2 separate regions of the Homo sapiens genome follow, and region 2 is linked to region 1. The links come from fine-mapping of genetic effects on gene expression. Tissue or cell type: whole blood. Region 1 holds a variant in brackets; the other region holds the start of a gene. All regions are shown on one strand. Distances are between the middles of the regions.

The links. PIP is the estimated chance that this variant, and not a neighbour inherited with it, causes the effect.
Region 2: it holds the start of CCNDBP1, and the variant in region 1 is fine-mapped to the expression of CCNDBP1 in whole blood (TOPMed, PIP above 0.99).

Annotation. Positions count from the first base shown.
Region 1 is chr15:43,124,451-43,132,715 of GRCh38, reverse strand. It overlaps the pseudogene SPCS2P1. Among named protein-coding and RNA genes, the nearest start is that of TMEM62, 5.0 kb to the left of the region's middle. The variant C/T (reference allele first, on the strand shown) is at 3,710.
Region 2 is chr15:43,181,509-43,189,508 of GRCh38, reverse strand. CCNDBP1 (cyclin D1 binding protein 1) reads right to left here and starts at 4,106. Exons shown (of 11, transcript NM_012142.5): 1 at 3,902-4,106; 2 at 3,630-3,689; 3 at 3,276-3,355; 4 at 229-310. The coding sequence starts at 4,010. TMEM62 (transmembrane protein 62) reads right to left here. Exons shown (of 14, transcript NM_024956.4): 14 at 4,365-5,249. The coding sequence ends at 4,923. It overlaps LOC124903478 (a long non-coding RNA gene), which reads left to right and starts at 3,622. Exons shown (of 2, transcript XR_007064604.1): 1 at 3,622-3,740. RefSeq lists an enhancer at 3,501-3,600 and silencers at 3,771-3,860, 4,081-4,380.

The DNA of each region.
Region 1 (8,265 bases):
TATATTGCTGTTCTGAGTAATTTTTTTCACGTCTTCCCTTTATTGAAAAAAATTTTAGAAAATGGCAGTTAATAAAAGGCACAAACAAATCAACAGGGATATACTAGTGGAAAACACAATATAAAACTAACATGTCATTGGCTTCTTTAATTGGTTAAGAGCACAAAATGTAACAGGCAAAAGGTCTGTTTCAAACAAATTAAAAAGCTATGTGTTTTTTAAATTCTCCCCAAATCAGATATATACACACCCACAAAAATAGTGTGTGAAGGAAAACTGTCATACACAAGAAGTCGTATCCTGAATTCTTCAAGGAAATACATGTGGAAATAGGAATTAACAGAGTCAGCAACAGATTAATTTTTTATTAATTGAGTCTTAAAATGCTACATAGCCCAAAGCTATACTATATAAAGTACTACTAGGTACAAAGGAAAGTCTGTACAGCTTTTAGCAAAACTGCTTTCCCAGAAAAGCAAATTAAAATAATGCAATCAGCAGACCCAGGAGACTACAGCTAGACATCAGAGCTACAACTTCTCATATCTCTCTCAGAAAATCCTATTTATCCAGAACAGACTAAAATTTCAGGACAAAACAGGGATTTTTAAACTTTTTTTACTTTATCCATTTTAAATTCTTTTTATCTCCCCCACCCCACAAACCAGTAATTCAGCAAGATCCAACAGAAAGAGGGCTACTTTTAGAATTGGCTATTTTATTTTTCTTTTTTTTTTTTTTTTTTTTTGAGACGGAGTCTCGCTCTGTCGCCCAGGCTGGAGCGCAGTGGCACGATCTCGACTCACTGCAAGCTCCACCTCCCAGGTTCAGGCCATTCTCCTGCCTCAGCCTCCCCAGTAGCTGGGACTATAGGCACGTGCCACCATACCTGGATAATTTTTTGTATTTTTTAGTAGAGACGGGGTTTCACCGTGTTAGCCAGGATGGTCTTGATCTCCTGACCTTGTGATCTGCCCGCCTCGGCCTCCCAAAGTGCTGGGATTATAGGCGTGAACTACCGCACCCGGCCTTATTTTTCTTTCTACGGCGAGACTGTCATGGAGCTTGGATATTTCAGGCTCATGTGCATCCATGACCAGTGTCCCACTGTGGTCAAAAAACTTAGCAATGGACTTGGTGAATTCGGCTTCCCGCTGCTGCTTTGTTCTCCCACTGATGAAGGTCAGCTTAGAGGTGTATTTGTCATCAAACCTTTTAAGACTGGAGGACAGTTGCCAAATATCATCAGGATCCATTCCTATAGGATCTTTCCTGTGGGCCACAAGAAAGATGCTCCTCTCCTTATATGAGGTATAAATGGTCAAAATCCCCATCATCATAAAATAGGATATGACGCACAAAGCCAAAATGGGTTTGGACTATGGAAAGGGGTGCATATAATCCCAAATCAAAGCCACTATGGCAAAGAAACAGGAGATTGTACAGATGGTAAGGCGACCATCAATGAGACCAAAATTCTCCACATATTTGTATTTTTCCAGAAGTAACTTTTTGGCAGAATCATCCAAAGAGTTTTTCACAGCTAATCCATCCCACTTGTCAATTTTTACAGGCTTATCATCTGTCTTCCACTTATCCAACAAGCTGCTATGGCCACTGCCTGTGCCGCACCTGGAACCACCGCCAGCCCCACTACTGCCTCCACTACCACTGGTTCTCCCACCCTGATCAGCTGCTTGCTGCTGCCATCTTATCCGCTTCTGCCTGTTCTGAGTAAATGTATACACGTGTGTGTGTGTGTATATATATATATATATATATATGTTGTTTTTTTTTTTTTTTTTTTTTTTTTTGAGACAGAGTCTCGCTCTGCCACCCAGGCCAGAGTGCAGTGGCGCCATCTCTGCTCACTGCAAGCTCCACCTCCCGGGTTCATGCCATTCTCCTGCCTCAGCCTCCTGAGTAGCTGGGACTACAGGCACCCGCCACCATGCCCGGCTAATTTTTTGTATTTTTAGTAGAGACGGGTTTTCACCATGTTAGCCAGGATGGTCTCAATCTCCTGACCTCGTGATCCACCCGCCTTGGCCTCCCAAAGTGCTGGGATTACAGGCATAAGCCACTGCGCCTGGCTGAGTGAATATTTTTACACAAGTAGTGCTCTTTAAAAAAAACTCCCTTTGAGTTTTTTCCTTGGGGCATGTTGTCAGTATTGGATTTATGCCAATTTCAATTAAATTGAATTTTCAATTTAAAATTTTCAATTAAATTTTGGAGTACCTTTGGAATAGAATACATTGATCTAATCAGAAAACATAAAGAAACATAAAGGTAAGTAGGCAAAGAGCTATAGTTCATTATCTTAAGAGCTTATGTAGGAGAGAGACATACATAAGTAAGTTTAATATATGAAGAATATGCTTTTTGCCACAAGAGATGACCAGATATAAAAGGCAGGGGGAAGGTTAAAACTAGGAGAGAGAAGCTGGGCACGGTGGCTCACGTCTGTAATCCCAGCACTTTGGGAGGCTGAGGCGTGCAGATCACCAGGTCAGGAGATCCAGACCATCCTGGCTAACACGGTGAAAGCCCGTCTCTAATAAAAATACAAAAAAATTAGCCAGGCATGGTGGCACGTGCTTGTAGTCCCAGCTACTCGGGAGGCTGAGGCAGGAGAATCACTTGAACCCATTAGGTGGAGGTTGCAGTGAGCTGAGATTGGACCACTGCACTCCAGACTGAGTGACAGAGCAAGATACTGTCTCAAACACCACCACCAACAACAACAAAAGCAACAACAAACTAGGAGACAGTACATCTTTGGAAAGAATCAAGAAAAGTTTAATTATGGAGGCCACATATAAAGGATGGGTAATATTTCTTGACTGGCAGAGATTGAGGTTGGGGTGGGTAAAAGCACTTTGCACTAAGACCTAACAACACGAACCAAAGCATTAAGATGAGAAAATGCAGGGCATGTTGCAGGGACAGTGAGTGTTTCAGTTTGGCTAGGCTATGCCAAGAGGAATAATGGTAATTAGACCAGACCCTTGGCTTGAGGCACATTGAGGAAGGCCTTTGTAAATGCCAAGAGTGAAGACAACAGAGTTCTGCTTTGGCAAGATGGATCTGGCAACGGCATAGAGAACTGGCTGTCCAGAGGATAGGTGTGAGAGAGAATCCTGTTGGAAGGAGATTGCAATAATCCAGGTAGTGGGGTAATTACAAAGACCTGAAGAAGAAAGATGGGAGAATACAACATTGAGATTAGAAAGGAATAATCAGATATAACAATAATTTTAAAAATAAAAACTATAGAACATGGCACCTGATTGGATATTCAAGGGAAGAAAATAAAAGTTTTGTTTTTTTTTTTAATAGTGCCAAAATGTGGAACCTAGTGACTGAGGGACCAGGGCTGTAATGTATGAATGGAGAGCATTACCCATATCAATAAAATAAAATTTTGGTTTTGGTTTTATCTAATACTACACCACTAGAAAACATGTGGAAGGATATTTTAAAACCAAATTTGGGAGACATGATTGAGATGATCTAATTTAAAACCCAAGGAATGTGGCATATGTAAAATGCATTTGCAAAAACCTTAGAGTATGGGGAACCCGCCCCCGATATTTCAACATAGGTTCTTTCTATTTTCCATAAGTGTCAGCTGGCTGAGAAATAAAGAGAAAGAGCACAAAGAGAGGAATTTTACAGCTGGGCCACCGGGGGTGACATCACATAT[C/T]GGGAGGACCATGATGCCCACCTGAGCTTCAAACCGGCAAGTTTTTTATTAAGGGTTTCAAAAGGGGAGGGAGTGTAAGGACAGGGAGTAGGTACAAAGATCACATGCTTCAAAGGGCAAAAAGCAGAACTACTAATAAGGGTCCAACAAAGATCACAATGCAAAGGGCAAAAGCAGAACTACTGATAAGGGTCTATGTTCATCGGTGCACGTATTGTCTTGATAAACATCTTAAATAACAGAAAACAGGGTTTGAGAGCAGAGAACTGGTCTGACCACTAATTTACCAGGGCAGTTTTTCCCCACCCTAGTAAGCCTGAGGGTACTGCAGGAGACCAGAGCGTATCTCAGTCCTTATCTCAACCACATGAGACAGACACTCCCAGAGCCTCCGTTTATAGACCGCCCCCCAGGAATGCATTCCTTTCCCAGGATATTAATATTAATATTTCTTGCTAGGAAAAGAATTTAGTGATATCGCTCCTACTTGCACATCCATTTACAGGCTCTCTGCAAGAAGAAAAATATGGCTCTTTTTGCCCGACCCCACAGGCAGTCAGACCTTATGGTTGTCTTCCCTTGTTGCCTAATCATCGCTGTTATTCTGTTCTGTTTCAAGGTGCACTGATTTCATATTTTTCAAACACACATGTTTTACAATCAATTTGTGCAGTTAACACAATTATCACAGTGGTCCTGAGGTGACGTATATCCTTAGCTTATGAAGATAACAGGATTAAGAGATTAAAGTAAAAACAGGCATAAGAAATTATAAAAGTATTATTTGGGAACTGATAAATGTCCATGAAATCTTTACAGTTTATGTTCCTCTGCCACGGCTCCAGCCGGTCCCTCCGTTTAGGGTCCCTGACTTCCCGTAACATTAGAGAAACCTCAAAGATACAGGAAATCATTTTCTAGAAATGGGGCACAACAAGAGGAAGAATCATGCTGTTAAAGTATTTGGACAAGGTCCAAAGTCACAAAAGCCAGCAGTCTCAATTTCAGACACTGTACTCCAACCAAGCCACTTCACTCATGGTGTTCAAAGTGAATAGGAACAGGATATTATTTATTTAATGATGGTTAATGATTCTCCAGGGAAATACTGGTTTGACCAGCTAATCACTTCAATTCAGCATAAAAGGTGTCTCAGTTCCTGACAGTCAAAGCAGAAAGGTAAATAGAGTTCTTCTTATAAAGAAAGCAGGCAGCAATTCACCATGAAAGCAAACTTACCTAGAACCAAAGTCAAGGGAGAATGTATCACTCAGACATTTTACAGTACAACGTACATTGTCACCAACAGCCATATATTGAATTAAGTGACTCTCATAAACATAAGATGCAGAAATTGTCTTTTTTTGGGCGAGGGGGGGTGGTCGGGGGGCGGAGGATAAAGTTTTGCTCTTGTTGCCCAGGCTGGAGTACAATTATGGGATCTTGGCTCACTGCAACTTCCACCTCCTGGGTTCAAGTGATTCTGCTTCAGCCTCCCAAGTAGCTGGGATTACAGGAGCCCGCCACCATGCCTGACTAATTTTTAAAAATATTTTTAGTAGAGACAGGGTTTCTTCATGTTGGCTAGGCTGGTTTCAAACTCCTGACCTCAAGTGATCCACCTGCCTTGGCCTCCCAAATTGCTAGCATCACAGGCGTGAGCCACTACACCCAGCCATAATTGTCTTCAAATCACTATCTTACTGACTTTGTTAAAAATACAAAAATATAGTATTAAATCGTTTTGTGAAGTCATTTATATAGAGAGCTAAAGTAATGTAATTAAAATAGGTTGCATATATATAAAGTTTGTTTGTTTGTTTGTTTGTTTGTTTTTTGAAACAGAGTCTAGGTCTGTCTGTCGTCCAGGCTGGAGTGCAGTGGTACAATATTGGCTCCCTGCAACCTCCGCCTCCTGGGTTCCAGCAATTCTTATGCCTCAGCCTCCCAAGTAGCTGGGATTACAGACGTGGGCCACGACGTACGGCTAATTTTTGTATTTTTTAGTAGAGACGGGGTTTCACCATGTTGGCCAGGCTCGCCTCAAACTCCTGGCCTCAAGTAATCTGCCCGCCTCGGCCTCCCAAAGTGCTGGGATTAAGATTATTTTTAATTATTTTTTTAAACTGTGGTAAAATAGGCTGAGCACAGTGGCTCACCCCTGTAATCCCAACACTTTGGGAGGCCAAGGCAGGCAGATTGCTTGAGCCCAGGAGATTGAGACCAGCCTGCACAACATGGCAAAACCCTGTCTCTACTAAAAATACAAAAAATTAGCAGGGTGTGGTGGGCGCATGCCTGTAGTCTCAGCTACCTGGGAGGCTGAGGTGGGAGGATCACCTAAACCCCGGTGATCAAGGCTGCAGTGAGCCGAAATTTTGCGCCACTGCACTCCAGCCCAAGCAATAGAGTGAGACGTTGTGTAATTCAGTGCAATTAAGTACATCCATATTGTTATGCAACCATCAGCCCTTAACATAATGGCTTCAAGGTTCATCCATGTTGTAGCATGTGCCACAATTTCCTTCCGTTTAAGGCTGAATAATATTGCATTGTATGTATAGACCACATTTTGTTTATCCATTCATCTGTTGATGGATACCTGAGTTGTTTTCCTCTTTTGGCTATTGTGTATGATGCTACAATGAACACTGGTGTGTACTAGACATTTTTAAAGCTTTTTTTTTTAACTTTAATTTTAGGTTTAGGGGTACAGGTGCAGGATTGTTATTCAGGTAAACTGCATGTCACAGGGGTTTGGTGTACAGATTATTTAGTCACCCAGATAATAAGCACAGTACCCAACAGGTTATTTTTTTTTCTGATCCTCTCCCTCCTCCTACCCTCCACCCTCAAGTAGGTCCGTGTGTGTCATTTCCCTCTTTGTGTCTATGTGTTCTCGTTGTTTAGCTCGCACTTTTAAGTGAGAACATATGGTATTTGGTTTTCTGTTCCTGCATTAGTTTGCTTAGGATAATGGTCCCCAGATCCATCCATGTTGCGGCAAAGGACATAATCTCATTCTTTTTTATGGCTGTGTAGTATTACATGGTGTATGTGTACCACATTTCCATTATCCTGTCTACAATTGATGGGCATTTAGGTTGATTCCATGTCTTTGCTATTGTGAATAGTGCTGCAGTAAATATTTGCATGCATGTGTTTTTATGGTAGGATGAACTATTTTACTTTAGGTATATACGCTTTTTAAGCTTTTGAGGGAGCACTCCTTTTATTCCTTAACAAAACAGAAATTTGGGAAGAATTTCATCTAGGTAATCAATGCTCTTTACAAGAAACCTGAAACACCTGCAAAAGTAAAAAAATCACAGATCAAGGAATTTCTGACTTATTACAACATGGATCAACCTTAAGGACATTATACTAAGTGAAATAAGCCAGTCACAAAAAGATAAACACTGTGTGATTCCACTTATATAAGGTACCTAGAGTAGTCAAATTCACAGAGACAGAAAGTGGAATGGTGGTTTGCAGAGACTGGGAGGAAGTGGGGATGGGGAGTTAATGTTTAATAGGAACACTGTTTCAGTTTTGCAAGATGAAAAAAGTCTGGAGATGGATAGTAGTGATGGTTTTACAGTATGGATGTACAATCGGCCCTCCATATCCATGGGTTCTGCATCTGTGGATTCAACCAACTGTGGATCAAAAATATTCAGGAAGGCTGGGTGTAATGGCTCGTGCCTGTAATCTGAGCACTTTGGGAGGCTGAGGTGGGCGGATCATTTGAGGTCAGGAATTCAAGGCTAGCCTGGCCAACTTGGTGAAACCCTTAGTCTCTAATAAAAATACAAAAAATTAGCTGGGCCTGGTGGTGCACACCTGTAATCCCAGATATTCAGGAGGCTGAGGCAGAAGAATAACTTGAACCCAGGGGGTGGAGGTTGCAGTGAGACAAGACTGTGCCACTGCACTCCAGGCTGGGTGACAGAGTGAGACTTTGTCTCAAAAAAAAAAAAAAATTCAGGAAAAGGCTAGACTCAGTGGCTCACACCTATAATCCCAGTGTTTTCAGAGGTCTAGGCAGGAGAATCCCTTGAGGTCAGGAATTTAAGACCAGCCTGGGCTGGTCTTAACAAAAAAATTAGCTGGCCATGGTGGTGCACCCCTGTAGTCCCAGCTACTTGAGAGGTTGAGGCAGGAGAATCACTTGAGCCCAGGAGGCGGAGGCTGTAGTGAGCCACCATCATGCCACTGCACTCCAGCCTGGGCAACAGAGCAAGACTGCATCTCAAAATAATAATAAATGTATACACTCTATTTCTCTATTTTTCTCCATTAAATGTTTATTTATTTTATTTATTTTTTTTTTTTTTGAGACAGAGTCTCGCTCTGTCGCCCAGGCTGGAGTGCGGTGGCACGATCTTGGCTCACTACAAGCTCTGCCTCCCGGTTTCATGCCATTCTCCTGCCTCAGCCTCCCGAGTAGCTGGGACTACAGGCGCCTGCCGCTGCACCTGGCTCATTTTTTTTGTATTTTTGGTAGAGACGGGGTTTCACCGTGTTAGCCAGGATGGTCTTGATCTCCTGACCTC
Region 2 (8,000 bases), 57 kb before region 1:
CCTTATGAGTCAGGCAAGGCAGGGGAGATGGGAAGTCATAGGAACAAAGCATCTGTATCTTAGAATAATGGCTTGTTTATATAAGTCACTTACATTACAAAATTATCCTTCACTGTATTTTATGGGAGAAAGTTACATGTTCAAGTTGGGTAAAGGTAAAAGTCACAAGACATAATCCACAATATTAGCAAAGATCTACACGATAAATGCAACACTTATGTGGCTTACCCTGATCCTTTGGAAGCAAATAGTACACTGCAATAAATGCCTTGATGGCAGCATGGACTTGTTCACAGAACTTCTGGGTTTCCTATGAAAAAGGAAACAGATTAGATCAAAGTGGTCAACCCTTCTGCTGTGGAATAGAGCAGATATTTCTTTTCTTTTTCTTTTCTTTCTTTTTCTTTTTTTTTTTTTTTTTTTTTTTTTTTGAGACAGAGTCTCACTCTGTCACCCAGGCTGGAGTGCAATGGCGCAATCTTGGCTCACTGCAACCTCCACCTCCCAGGTTCAAGCAGTTCTCCTGCCTCAGCCTCCCAAGTAGCTGGGATTACAGGCACCCGCCACCACACCCAGCTAATTTTTTGTATTTTTAGTAGAGATGGGGTTTTGCCACACTGGCCACACTGGTCTCGAACTCCTGACCTCAGGTGATCCACCTCCCTTGGCCTCCCAAAGTGCTGAGATTACAGGTGTAAGCCACTGCACCCGGCCTAGGGCAGATATTTCTACAGCATCATCAAACATTTTCTGAAGTCCTGGTATGAAGGCAGGCCTACTATACTCATCACATACCAGGGAGGAGTTAGCTATATAGTAGATATTGGGCTGACAACTCAATAAACCATTAAGAAACAGCAGGAAAAAACTTATTCCTGATACTCTGTATCCCAAGATATTCATGATATCTTAGACCAGGAGCTGGCAAACTGTGGTCCTCAGGCCAAGTCAGGCCCCACTGCCTGTTTTTGGAAATGAAGTGTATTGGGACACAGCCATACTCACTGGTTTTAATGTCTGTAGTTGTGTTTGCTCTATAAGGGCAGAGTTGGGTAGTTGGTTACAAAATCTAAAATATTTACTAACTGGCCCTTTACAGAAAAGAGAGGGAGGGAGAGAGACAGACAGACCAACTGACAGACCATGGTTATTAAACCATTAACCAGGTCTCTCTCTTTTTTTAACAGAATCAGAATATGTAACTAAAGGTAACTAGCATGGACTCGACAATGCTCCATGTTAACTATTTTCCTTCTAGGTGGTCACTGGCTTTCTCATCTTCCTTGTCCTCAATTTTCTGTTAAATTCTAAGTCAATACTATACAAATGTGGTCCAGGTTGGAGCCAGTCTACAAACTGTTTGTGACCAGTCAGGGATGAGATAAGCAGTGACTGAGAGTGTTTAGAAACTTTTATGGCAATTTGACATTTATTCAACATCCGAGCACATAATTTTATTAAAGTATCATTCCATACAGATTGGAATTTAAAAAACAACAACAACAACAAAAAAAAACCAACAACCACCCATCTTTTAGTAGGACTAAAGTGGTGAGATCTCAAGAAGGCAATGATGATTCATGTGTATGTATGTGTGTATATACACACATATATACATATATGTATTTATTTGAATATATGTATATACTTGAATATTTGTATATATTTCAAATAAATCCAAATTCTAACTTTTCATCTATGAGTGAAACTACTGTCCTGAGCATGTATAGAAAATCAGTTCTATGCTGCCTCCTTGTGGTATCTTACTTGCAGTGAGTTTTAGCAGCAAGTCCTAAGTGCATTTGAAAGAAAGGGGTTAGCAGATAAGAAAAATAAGGTAATATTAACTACTCTTTTTGAAATAAGTATTTTCCATGAATCTTTTGAAGTGCTCTCATACAATTCATCTCTTGTTTCCTCATCACAAATCTCAAAGGTAGGCCAGGCACGGTGGCTCACACCTGTAATCCCAACACTGTGGGAGGCCAAGGCAGGCGGATCACTTGAGGTCAGGAGTTCGAGACTAGCCTGCCCAACATGGTGAAACCCCGTCTCAACTAAAAATACAAAAATTAGCCAGGCGTGGTGACAGGTGCCTGTAATCCCAGCTACTCGAGAGGCTGAGGCAGGAGAACTGCTTGAACCCGGTAGGCAGAGGATGCAGTGAGCCCAGACTGTGCCACTGCACTCCAGCCTGAGTGACAGAGAGAGACTCTGTCTCAAAAAAAAAAAAAAAATCTCAAAGGTATGTAGGAGGAGAGAGTTTATCACTGTAGGTACATGCAGCAGAAGATATTTATATCCTTTCCAAACACCTATATATGTAGACTGAAAAATTAAAACAATTGACTATGAAAATCAAATAAGGCAATGAATATGCCATTTTAAAAGAATCTTACTCCTATATTAAGCATACACAACTCTAGAAAAACTGAGCATAGAGCATACGTGGTCATAGCCAACATGTTTACTTTCATTAGTTTTATAATAAAGGAATATTTAAAATGCATAAATCTTTGTTCTAGCAATTCTACTTCCGGGAATTTTTTCTACCAATATACACACATACACAGAATTAGGTAATTCATCACGACACTGTTTGCAGTAATTCTAAGTTGGAAGGTCCAGAACAGTGTTTATGTATCATTTGTGTAAAAAGAAGCTGACACATACAGATAAATGTATATGAATGTATATATGCACAGAATATACGTGGAATAATGCAAAAGGAACTGGGGGAGACAAAAATGAGAAAGTGGGTGGAAAGGTAAACTTAACACACTTTGATATCTGTTGAATTTTGTACTATCTACATATGTTACTGATTAAATATAAAAAATAATATAAAAAGGGTATTATGCAGTATAACAGAATAGGTAGCTTAGACATCAGATAGACCTTGATTTAAATTCTAGCCCCCCTGCTTTTTTTTAAATCTTAAGCTGAGCTTCTGAGCCTCCTTGCTCATCTGTCAGATGGCCATCAAGTATGTGAAAACACCCAGCAAATAAAAAGTGCTTAAAAAATTATCAGAAGGGAAACAACCAGGATAAACTTCAGACTGAACCAATATTTATAAGACCTGCCTACTCCGCGCCAGGAACTGCACTTGGCAATTCGGTCTTCACAACAATCCTGTGAAGTAAAAACGGTAACCTCACTGGACAGATGAAGAAAAGAAATCTCCTGGCGTGCGTGCAAAAGGTGGAAAGAAAATTAGAGGATTCCTAAGGTGTAACTCGGCAGCCCAAGGATTCCACGAAAGTGAAGCCCACCTGTGGAGACGGCAGTGGAAGCTGAGAGAAGACTATGGTCAGAGTCGTGGCTTCCCTTGACACAGTCACAGCTGCCTCATCTGGGGGGTGGCCGAAGAGGAGGCAGGTGCCAATACGTTAGTGCTGCACGGACTTGGAAGACTTCCCTTACCGACCGAGACTTCTCAAAAACACTTCCCGAATGTCGAGGTTAGAATTCTATTTCACCCTCTCAGGTGCTGAGGTGGGTAAGGTACCTCACAGAAAGGATGCAGCGGGGGAGAGCAGTCCCCTCCGTGGGGGACAGCGGGAGGAAAAGGGGTCGGGACGCTGGAGGAACTGAGGCAAGGGGAGCCCGGAAGGAGGCGCACTCACTGAGTCTTCTCCAGAACATCTCTCGATTAAACTCCTCGGTGGTCTCCTGGGCTTCGCCGACTTGTGGGTGTGGCGTGTGGGGGCCGAACGGTGGCGAATGGAAAAGCTGAGGTAAGCGGAGCCACCTCCCTCGCCCAAGCCCGGCTCCCCGCCGCCGCCCCAGCCCGCCCTCTCCGCGACCCCGAGCCCGGCCTCTCCCCGACCCCGAGCCCGGCCTCTCCCCGACCCCGAGCCCGCCCCTGCCGTCGCCCGTTCTAACTCCGTCAGCTCACCCCGCACTCGAGGCAGGAGCAACCGCAGCTCCTCCGCCAAGTGCCGGAGCTGCTCCAAAGGCGAAGCCAGGGTGGGGACTGCGGCTGCAGGTGCAGTTGCGCTCGCCATCTCAGTCGCTTGCCGAAGGCCGCAAACACAGGCCTCCGCTGCCACTGCCGGAGCCGCACTGCGACAGCCGCTCCACTTCCGGGCCACAGCGTCAAGGGCTCGTTTCCGTCAACAAGCCGTCCAGCCCCGTCCCAGAGGCCCTGCCCTGCCTCCTCCCGCCACGAGGCCCGGCCCCGCCCGAGGTCCAGCACCACCCATCCCGTTATCAGAGACCAGGCCTGGCCCCGCCTCCTCCCGCCCCGCCCTGTCCCCTGAGGTACAGCACCAACCATCCCACTCTCAGAGGCCAGGACAGGCCACGCCTTCTCTTGCCCCTTAGGCCAGGCTACACAAGCAAGCCTCAGGCTCACCGTCTTTCTTATTCATCATTCATTCATTTATTTGATTAGTTGAAAACACTTCCGACTAAGGAAGCAGAGAGCCCACAATCCTGTGGGAAAACAGGCCTGGGAACTAATATCTCAGGGGTAGTGAGGGTCGGGCCCAGATCCTCAAAGGTTCCCTGCCCCTGAAATTGCACCTTTGACAGCTGCTGAATTCCAAGCACAGCGGTAAGTGCTTTACATGGGGTAACCCTAAAAAACACACTGGGCCTCAGACACTCCCGTACACACACCCAACCTCTACCCTGTGGATGTCCTAGATAAGGGTTTTCTCTTCACAAAGGTAAATCAACTCTTTGCCTCCTTAGGGAGGGAAGGAATAAAGGCATTATTTTTGAGACTTTTCTGCAGTCCATTCTGCAGGTATCAGTAGTGGGTAATCCCTCCAACGTCCAGGACTCCAAACGAGCAGCTGCTCCCTAAAGCTCACCCACCAATCCTGGCCCTCCACCTGCTACTGGGGTAGAGGCCTGGGCTACAGACACAGAGGCTGGGCTTCTGCCCAGCTGCCAGTGGTGAGACATGGCCTTCAGGAGCTCAGGTGGCTTTTTAACTGCACCATGAAGATTCCAAACTTGGTGGAGTTCAGTGTCCACACATAACGAATGAGAACAGGTGTCAGCAGTGTCAACCAGGTCCGCAAAGGGGAGAATAAAAAAGCTAGGGTGCCGTATGTTGCATAAAGAAAGTAGCAGGAATAAACCTGCCAGATGTACAGCAGTAGCATAAGTAGGTGAACAGGCATAATTTTCAAGTATTTTCTTTGATGGAGATGAGACCTGAAGTTGTGACCAAAGCACCGCTGCAGCAAGCTCCAACACATGTAAGCCATCAAGGGGATGTTAAAAAACGCCAGCTGGAAAAGAACAGAACCATAGCTTACTCCCAAGTCCTTGGAAGAGTTTGGTCTTAATAATGCATTATTAGTGGATCCTAAGACTATGCTGCTATCTGTCTTGGCGTTAGCTAATTTACTTCAAGCACAGTTGCTTATAACACAACAGCTGACTTGTGGCTAGTTGTGTATTTGCCCATGTCCTTTTATTCATCTTAGAGGCAGGTATCATTTAATTTATGCTGAAGTCCCAACTTGTAGTACAGTATCATATACACAGTTAATACCCAATGGTGTTAAGCTGGAATTGAACTGAGTAAATGTATACACACACATACAACAACCCCTCTTTTTTGGTGGAGTGAGGGGAGGACTTGGCTATCAGTATTTTTTTTCTTACCTCCATTTTTGTTTGAGGTAGCATGATAAGTACTGGAATATAAATTAGAGTATCTAAATTATAATCCAAGTTGAGCTGCTGTATGATTCATTCATTTAACAAATATTTATTGAGCACCCATTATGTAGCAGGCATGAGCTAGGCTCCAAGTTGGGGACACAATGGCAAACAAGTTAGAAAAGGTCCGTCATAGAGCTTACATTCTAACAGGGAGAAGACAGACAAAAAAAAAAACCAAAAAATATAATTACAGATCGTGATTAGTTCAATGAAGGAAAGAACTGGGTCATGAGAAGGTAACTGGGAGAAAGGCTCTCAGAGGCCAGAAGGACAAGAATGAATCAGCGGAGGGAAGTGCATTCTAGGCAGAAGGAACAAATGAAAAGCCCAGAGGTGGGAGAGGTCTTGGCCTCTTTAAGGAAGTGCATGCAGAGCATGAGCCAGGTGGAAATTGGGGCAGTCGGCAGGACCCAGATCACTGCTCTGCTTCAAAGCATTTCAAGCTGAAAAGTAAGTGAGCTGATTGTAAAGTTTTTAAAAGAGCACACTGGATGCTCTGTATTAAGCTGAGAGTAAGGAGGCAAGAATATCAGGGAGAAGACCCAGGCAAGAAATAATTACAACTTAGATTAGGAAAACAGAAATGGAGAGAAGTGGATGGATTCAAGATATGCATTGGAAGCAGATCAAATAAGGTAGAGCTTGCTGGTGAAATAGATACAGGGTATGAAGGAAAGGGAATAATTGAGGATACATCTTGGAGAAATCAGGTGAATGGTGGAGTCATTTATTAAAACTGGAAAAACAGAGAGGAACAGGTTTGGGGTGGAAATAATGTTCCTATCAGAGAGACATCACATGAAGTTGAGATGCCTGTTAGACATCTGTGGCCATTGGATATAGAGGCACTTGAAGTGCAGAGAAGAGGTCTAGATCAGAGATATAGATTTGGGATTCATGGGTCTGGATGATACATAAAATCCATTATTAGTGTACTATTTATTAGAATATGAATGTAAACATTTACAAAGGAAAAAACCCTGCCTTTTGGTAAGGCTCAGGATTCATTTGGTATGAGAGAGCTCCTTAGAGACAGCCTCCATCAACATAATAGAAAACTGCAATGAGGCTGGGTGCAGTGGCTCACGCCTGTAATCCCAGCACTTTGGGAGGCCGAGACGGGCGGATCACCTGAGGTCAGGAGTTCGAGACCATCCTGGCCAACACAGTGAAACCCTGTCTCTACTAAAAATACAAAAATTAGCCGGGCATGGTGGCAGGCACCTGTAACCCCAGCTACATGGGAGGCTGAGGCAGGAGAATCACTTGAATTAGGGAGGCAGAGGTTGCAGTGAGCCGAGACGATGCCATTGCACTCCAGCCTGGACGACAAGATCGAGACTCCATCTCAAAAAAAAAAAAAAAAAGAAAAGAAAAGAAAAGAAAACTGAAATGAACCCAGGACCTACTCATGTATATAATGCTGCTATGCAGAGAATATTCTGGACTTGGGTCAGTGTTTGCTAGGCAGAAGTCTTTCCTACTTGGCTGTCTCTAATCCTGTTGGATCATGTTCTACTGCCCTGTTAGAAGGCCATGAACTTATTTTGAATGTTTTTGGATCTCTTCCAAAACTTCAAATTTTGGTCCACTAACTCCATTAGGTGAGTAAAATAAAGAAACTGTTAGATAAATACTTTTCAAATCTGTTTATGTAGTTTTTCTATGGATCAAGGTTCTTTGTGTGTTTATTTTAAAGGAATCAAATGTAAACCTAATACATCAGTTTGTTTCCTAAACAAGTACATTGCTAGGAAAGCCCAGGTCTGGTTTTTGAATAATGCAGTTTCCACTGAATAACTGACCCATTTTTTTAATGTGTCTATTTTTTAGTTTCCTCCCTCTAAAATATTTTCCTTCTTCATCATCATAATCAGTTTTGGTTTACTCAGAAATCTAAAACTTTTTCTACCATAATCCCTTGTTTCATTTTTTTGTCAATGAAAAAGCACAGTGAAACAAAAACAACAAAAACTTCTTTCACCTCTTATAAACACTTCATGACAAAAATGTATTTTAGGCTAGGCATGGTGGCTCACGCCTATAATCCTAGCACTTTCGGAGGCCAAGGCAGGTGAATCATCTGAGGTCAGGAGTTCGAGACCAGCCTGGCCAACATGGTGAAACCCTGTCTCTACTAAAAGTGCAAAAATTAGCCAGGCATGGTGGCACATGCCTGTAATCCCAGCTACCCAGGAGGCTGAGGCAGGAAAATCGCTGGAACCCAAGAGGTGGAGGCTGCAGTGAGCCAAGATTGCACCACTGTGCTTCAGCCTGGGCGACAGCAGAACACTGTCTTGGGGAAAAAAAAA